2 linked regions of the Homo sapiens genome follow. The protein of the gene in region 2 purifies or fractionates together with the protein of the main gene of each other region. This does not show direct contact. Each region holds a gene or a part of one and is shown on either strand. Other genes may lie near its edges.

Evidence for each region. Proteins that work in one complex are often made in the same cells at the same time.
Region 1: the proteins of WFDC11 (region 2) and LMLN purify together in Homo sapiens (affinity purification with mass spectrometry; one large-scale study listed by BioGRID and IntAct). This does not show direct contact.

Annotation. Positions count from the first base shown.
Region 1 is NC_000003.12:198,022,694-198,026,345, reverse strand, and holds part of LMLN (leishmanolysin-like peptidase isoform 1 precursor), read right to left. Parts: intron 1,689-3,652; coding exon 1,558-1,688; intron 1-1,557. UniProt on the Homo sapiens protein: Metalloprotease.
Region 2 is NC_000020.11:45,668,026-45,671,777, forward strand, and holds the start of WFDC11 (protein WFDC11 precursor), read right to left. Parts: upstream 2,215-3,752; 5' UTR 2,153-2,214; intron 1-2,152.

The sequences.
Region 1 (3,652 bases), on a different chromosome or scaffold from region 2:
CCCTGTCTCAAAAGAGGAAAAATGAAAAAAAAAGTTAATTTTACATAAATTGTATGGTATGTAAAATATATCTTGATAGTGCTATTACCAGGTCAGGCAAAGTGGCTCATGTCTGTAGTCCCAGCACTTTGGGAGGCTGAGGCAGGTGAATCACATGAACCCAGGAGTTCAAGACCAGCCTGAGTAGCATGGCAAAAGCCTGTCTCTACAAAAAATAAGAAAAATCAGCCAGGTGTGGTGGTGTGCACCTGTAGTCCCAGCTTCTCAGATGGCTGAGGTGGGAGAATCGCCTGAGCCTGGGAGTTCGTGGCTGCAGTGAGCGTGATCGCACCATTGTCTCTAGCCTGGGTGACAGAGCAAAACCCTGTCTCAAAAAAAAACAGAAAAGAAGAAAAGCAGTTACCAAAAAAAACGTTAATTTGATAAGTAACTAATGATAAGAGTTAAATTTCCAGTTCTAAAGGTCCGTTTAGCTCTTGCAGCTGAAATGGCACAGGAATGCTGATTCTGCATTTCTCAGGCTTACGCTGTCCTCCCTGACATCCATTTGTAGGGTGCAGAAGATTCATTCCATTGGATGCTCCTAAGTCACAGAATGGCTACATCTTTATAAGTCCTTAATAAGGTGATGTCATATAATATCAGATGTGCAAATAAGATAATTAAGGAAATAGTAGGCGAGGCATGGTGGCCGCCATCTATAATCCCAGTACTTTGGGAGGCCAAGGCAAGAGGATTGCTTGGGCCCCGAAGTTCTAATCTAGCCTGGGCAACATAGTGAGACCTCTTCTCTACAAAAAATCAAACACTTAGTCGGGTGTGTGGTGCACACTGTAGTCCCAGCTCCTCAGGAGGCTGAGGTGGGAAGGTCGCTTGAACCCAGGAGGTAGAGGATATAATGAGCCGTGACTGCAGCAGCACTCCAGCCTAGCTGACAGAGCAAGACCTTGTCTCAAAAAAAAGAAAAAGAAAAAGGAAAAAAAATTGTAGTTTGCCCTTTTTGGATTTCTAATTACAAAGGAAAAAACACTCTATTATTAATCAGCAACTGATTTATTCTTTTTCCTTTATTTTTTGGAGACAGGGTCTCGCTTTGTTGCCTAGGATGGTCTCGAATCCTGGGCTCAAGCAATCCTCCTGGCTCAGCCTCCCAAAGTGCTGGGATTACAGGCGTGAGCCACCACGTCCAGCCTGATTTACTAATTCTTATAACCCATGAGGTCCTCAGACCTTTTGAAATAAAATTGACATGTTTTCCATTACAAAGTAATATTTGCTCAAGAACAAAATTACCTATTTACCATTACTTCCTCAGAATATATGCCCAGAAGTAACATTACAGTAATTACATATATATTTTTAAGAGGCACTTTTTCTAAAGAAATGACAATATTTTCATAAAACATAAGCATCCAAACTAATATTTACATAAACAAGATACAGTATTGATCAGTAAATTAATGACATAAAATATGAAAATATAATTTAAAATACAAAACCATAAAAGAGATAAAATCACATAATATTTGGCACAACTAATAACAAACATAAGCTTACCTGATAGCATCCGCTTCCCCAGTCTGGGTAACTCAGCTTCCTCTCACACTTCTCCATAACGAATGCTGATTTCTGAATTAGACAAACGGAATGAGGTCCATACTTTTCAGCGCCATAGTTCTTAAAAATTTCTGAGGCAAAGAAGAAAAGTCTCCTTAAAAATTGACTTTTGGCTCAAAGAACAAGAAACTGAACCATTCCATTTTTATGATTAAAAGTTGCTTTAAAAATCAGACATGTTTCATGGAAATTTTAAATTTAAAAAATTAGGGTAGGCTGGGCACGGTGGCTCACGCCTGTAATCCCAGGGTTTTGTGAGGCTGAGGTGGGCAGATCACGAGGTCAGAAGATGGAGACCATCCTGGCTAACGTGGTGAAACCCCGTCTCTATTAAAAACACAAAAAATTAGCCGGGCGCGGTGGCGGGCGCCTGTAGTCCCAGCTACTCGGGAGGCTGAGGCAGGAGAATGGCGTGAACCCGGGAGGCGGAGCTTGCAGTGAGCCGAGATTGTACCACTGCACTCCAGCCTGGGCGACAGAGAGAGACTCCGTCTCAAAAAAAAAAAAAAAAAAAATTAGGATCCACAGGGTTCCAAACTCACACTAGGTTCTTAATAAAGGAATTAATGGGAGAAAATTACTGCATCAGACACAAGGGAATAAAACTGGGCCCAACGTTTTCTAGGTTAAATATATAGAAGAACTAGCACTAAGAATCGTTAGATCACTAGACACCAAGATAAAATCATCTTCACTGGTGGTCTAAATAGGAGGCACCTCCAAATTACTCATGATAGGATGAGGCCAAGTGATTTATATAATGCAGACTTTTGGGGGGTGTTGCAACATTTGAAAACTTTCTTATATCTTCAACTTGTGCCACCTCCTGGAAGTCCACAAATATTAGGCTGGTGCAGAAGTAATTGCGGTTTTCGCATTACTTTAACGGCAAAACCACAATTACTCTTCCACCAACCTAGTAAGATGCTGATCTAATCTCACAGTATGCACAAACCTGCAGAGGAATGAAAGGCCTCTAATGGACAAAGGGACAAAGCTCTTAAACCCGAGCAGTAATTTGCTCTCTTTAGACTCTTTACAATAAGTTGTCTTTGGGGAAGTAGAGAGTTCAATTAGCCCATTTTAAAATATTATAAAGATAAGTGTTTTATGCCAGTTTTGATAAATCTGAATTATATAAGCTAAAAAATGCAAATTAGAATAAAACAGAATTCTTTACTTCTTTTGAGTATCAGAGTCTTTCAAAACTATAGTGATCAGTGTCTAAAATGGGGTTCAGGGCTGGATGTGGTGGCTCAAGCCTATAATTTCAACACTTTGGGAGGCCAAGGAGGAAGGACCGCTTGAGGCCAGGAGTTTGAGGCCAGTCTGGGTAACATAGCAAGCCTCATCTCTACAAAAATTTTTAAAAATTAGTCAGGTGTGGAGGTGCATGCCTGTAGTCCTGGCTCTGGGGAGTCTGAGGCAGGAGAATCACTTGAGCCCAGGAGTTACAGGTTACAGTGAGCTATGATGGTGCCACTGCACTCCAACTTGGGTGACAGAGTGAGACCTTGTCTCTAAAAATAATAATAATAATAATAATAAAACAGAATTCAGCAAACTGCAACCCTCAGGCCAAATCCTGGCACATTCATTCACGTACATACTGTCTGTAACTGCTTTCAGACGGTAACGGCTGAGCTGAATCAGAAAGCTAGAGACCTTATGACCCACAAAGCCCCAGATATTTATAATTTTCCCCGTTAACAAAAAACGTTTGCCAGCTCCAGCTCTAAAACAATAACATGTGATAGTACATCTCTGGCAAATCCATAACTGACAGATCTGTGCATTTCTTTTGCTTTAATATGGAACTGCTGAGTGGTTATAAGTTGTTAGGATATTTATTTATTTATTATTTTTATGTGACATGGGGTCTCACTGTGTTGCCCAGGCTGGAGTGCAGGGGCATGATCTCGACTCACTGCAAACTCCGCCTCCTGGGCTGCTCAAGCAATCCTCTGGCTTCGTCCTCCTCCATAGCTGGGACCACAGGTGTGCACCATCACACCTGGCTAATTTTTTGGATTTT
Region 2 (3,752 bases):
GCTAAGCAACTTGCCCAAGGCCACACAGCCAATAAGTGGTAGAAACAAGATTTGAAAGGAAGTGAATTCAGAGCCAGGTATGCCAGATGGTGAAGCCCACAGCTTTTCCTGGGCCTCAGAGCCACGATACATCTTGGGCTTATTCCCATCACCAAGGCACTCTCTCTAGATACCCTTACAGTGCTAGCAGAGGGGCATAATGGGAAGGGAAATTTCAGGAGCTGAGCTGACTGTGAGAGGCTCTGAGTAAGTCTTGACTGGGTCTAGGAATATTCCCAGAGTTGTTTGGTTGGGATGAGAAAGTGGGAAAGTGGGAGAGAAGCAAAGCCTGTAGATTGTCCTAACATTTTCTTCTCTAGTTCTATTTCCTTGCCTCTTCCCACTTTACAATATACTCTTGGCCTTGTCCTATTCCTGGGACCCCTCATCAATTTATATCATTTACTTCTCTCCGTAGGAAAAAAAAAAGAAAAAGATTTCTTTTCAAGATGTCATTTTTTGCTCTTGTACTAATAAAAGAGCAACTCATGCTTAGTGCATAAATTTTGTAAAAATATGAAAATGACAATTAAATTTAAAAATAATTGTTAATCTTGTCAACCTATGCTAACATTTGTGCATATATTCTAGTAGACTTTTTCTTATGTACATATATATTTTTATATAGTGGATAATCCTGTGACTATTTTTAAGTTTAACATTTACAATAAATATTTTCCTGTACTCCTAAATATTTTCAAAAATTTCATAGATTGGTAGATTACTCTGCCAATTAATCACCAGTTGTTGACAAGCTTGGTGGTTTCAGTTTTTCCCTATTGTAGAAATTCACTATTAGTTACATAATGATAACTAAATCCTTGAGTATTTATTTATTTATTCCTTGGGAAAGCCAATAAAAGTAGAAATACAGATAATTCAATCTGTGCATAAATATTACCAATTCTCTCTTCATAATGTTTAGGCTATACTTGCACCAACAAAGAAATGGTCTGAAAATGTCAGACCATTTCCTTCATCTTGACCCTGATATAGACATTCAGAGGATTCAGATGGTAGGTCGGAGGAGCCAGCAGGCTATTGACTATTCACAGTTGTCTAGTGTCACAATCACAGGCCTTACACTCATCCGATGTAAACTTAAAACCCATCTTTACAGAGGCAGATACTAAAAAATTAAAATTAAAATTAAAAAACCATCTTTATCATTTGCTAACTCCATGACCTTGGGTAACTCATTTCACTTCTGGAAAACTCCATTAAATCACATGGAAAAATTATAGCACAGGCATACCTCATAGATATTACAGATTCAGTTCCAGGCCACCCTAATAAAGTGAGTCAAACAAATATTTTGGTTTCTCAGTGCATATAAAAGATATGTTTACACTATACTGTGATCTACTAAGTGTGTGACAGCATTATGTATAAAAACAGTGTACATATCTTAATCCAAAAATAGTTTATTGATAGACATCAATACCAAGAGCTCTCAAAACCACACACTTACATGTGCTTGTTAGTACATGCTCCTGTTCCTGAATGACTTTTTGGTAAACAACAAAATTAAGACAGAAATCAAGAAGTTTTTTGAAACTAATAAGAACAAAGATACAACATACCAAAATCTCTGGGACACAATTAAACCAGTGTTGAGAGGAAAGTTTATAGCACTAAATGCCCACATCAAAAAGTTAGAAATATCTCCAATTAACCTAACATCACACCTAGAGGAACTTGAAAAACAAGAGCAAACCAACCCCAAAGCTAGTAGAAGAAAAGAAATAACCAAAATTAGAGCTGAACTGAACAAAATGGAGATAAGGGAAACCATACAAAAGATCCATGAAACCAAAAGTTGGTTCTTTGTAGAATAAATAAGACTGGTAGACCACTAGTTAGACTACTAAAGAAAGAGAAAATCCAGATAAACACAATCAAAAATAACAAAGGGGATATTACCACTGACCCCATAAAAATACAAACAAAAATCAGAGACTATTACAAACACCACTATGCACACAAACTAGAAAACCTACACAAAATTGATAACCTCTTGGAATCATACAAACTCCCAAGATTAAACCAGGATGAAATTGAACAGACCAATAACAAGTACCAAAATTTAATCAGTAATTAAAAAAAAACTTACCAACCAGAAAAGGCCCTGGACCAGATGGATTCACAGCCAAATTCTACCAGACATATAAAGAAGAGCTGGTGCCAATCCTACTGAAATTATTCCAAAAACTTGAGGAGGAGGGACTCCTCCCTAATTCATTCTATGAAGTCAGCATCATTCTGACATCAAAACCTGGCAGAGAGACAACAGAAAAAGAAAACTTCAGACCAATATCACTGATGAACATAGATGCAAAAATCCTAAACAAAATACTAGCAAACCAAATCCAGCAGTATATCAAAAAGCTAATCCACCACATTGTTTCCTGTTGGGAGCTCCCTGCAATACCCACCCCCCCTCCCCCCTGCCCCGCAAAAAAATGAATTCACCACAATCAAGTAGGCTTTATCCCTGGGAAGCAAGATTGATTCAACATATGCAAATCAATACATGTGATTCATCACATAAACCAAACTTTAAAAAAAGATCATCTTAATAGATGCAGAAGAGGCTTTTGATAAAATTTAACATCTTTTCATGTTAAAAACCCTCAACAAACCAGACATCAAAGGTACATACCACAAAATAGTAACAGTCAACTCTGACAATCCCACAGCCAACATCATAATGAATTGACAAAAGCTGGAAGCGTTCCTCTTGAGAAGCGGAACAAGACAAGGATGCCCACTCTTGCCACTCCTACTCAATATAGTATTGAAGTCCTAGCCAGAGCAATCATGCATGAGAAAGAAATAAAAGTCATCTAAATAGGAAGAGAGGAAGTCAAACTATGTTTGACAGACAATATTCACAGACAATATAAGCCTAGAAAACCCTGTAGTCTCTGCCCAAAGCTTCTAGATCTGATAAACCACTTCAGCAAAGGTTCAAGATACAAAATCAATGTACAAAAATCAGCATTTCTAGCAGCATTTCAATCGTATGAAATGCATAGAAATATGTCCAAGCTGAGAGTCAAATCAAGAATGCAATCCCACTCACAATAGCCACAATAAGAATAAAATACCTAGGAATACAGCTAAACAGGGAGGTGAAAGAGCTTTACAATGAGAATTATAAAACACTGTATCAGAGACAACACAAACAAACAGAAAAACATTCTATGCTCATGGATAGGAAGGGTCAATATTGTTAAAATAGTCATACTGCCCAAAACAATTTACGGATTCAATGTTATTCCTATATACAAACTACCAACATTTTTCACAGAATCAGAAAAAGCCATTTGAAAATGCATTTGGAAGCAAAAAGGGCCTGGATAGCCAAAACAATTCTAAGCAAAAAGACCAAAGCTGGAGGCATTATACTTCCAGACTTCAAACTATACTACAAGCCTACAGTAACCAAAACAGCATGGTACTGGTACAAAATGAGAATCATTAACAAATGAAACAGAATAGAGAACCCAGAAATAAAGCTACACACCTACAACTGTCTGATCTTCAATGAAGCTGACAAAAACAATCAATGGGAAAAGGACTTCCTATTCAATAAATGCTACTGGCATAACTGGCTAACCATATGCAGAAGAATGAAACTGGACCCCCACTTTTTACCACATACAAAAATCAATACAAGATGGATTAAAGACTTAAATGTAAAATCTAAA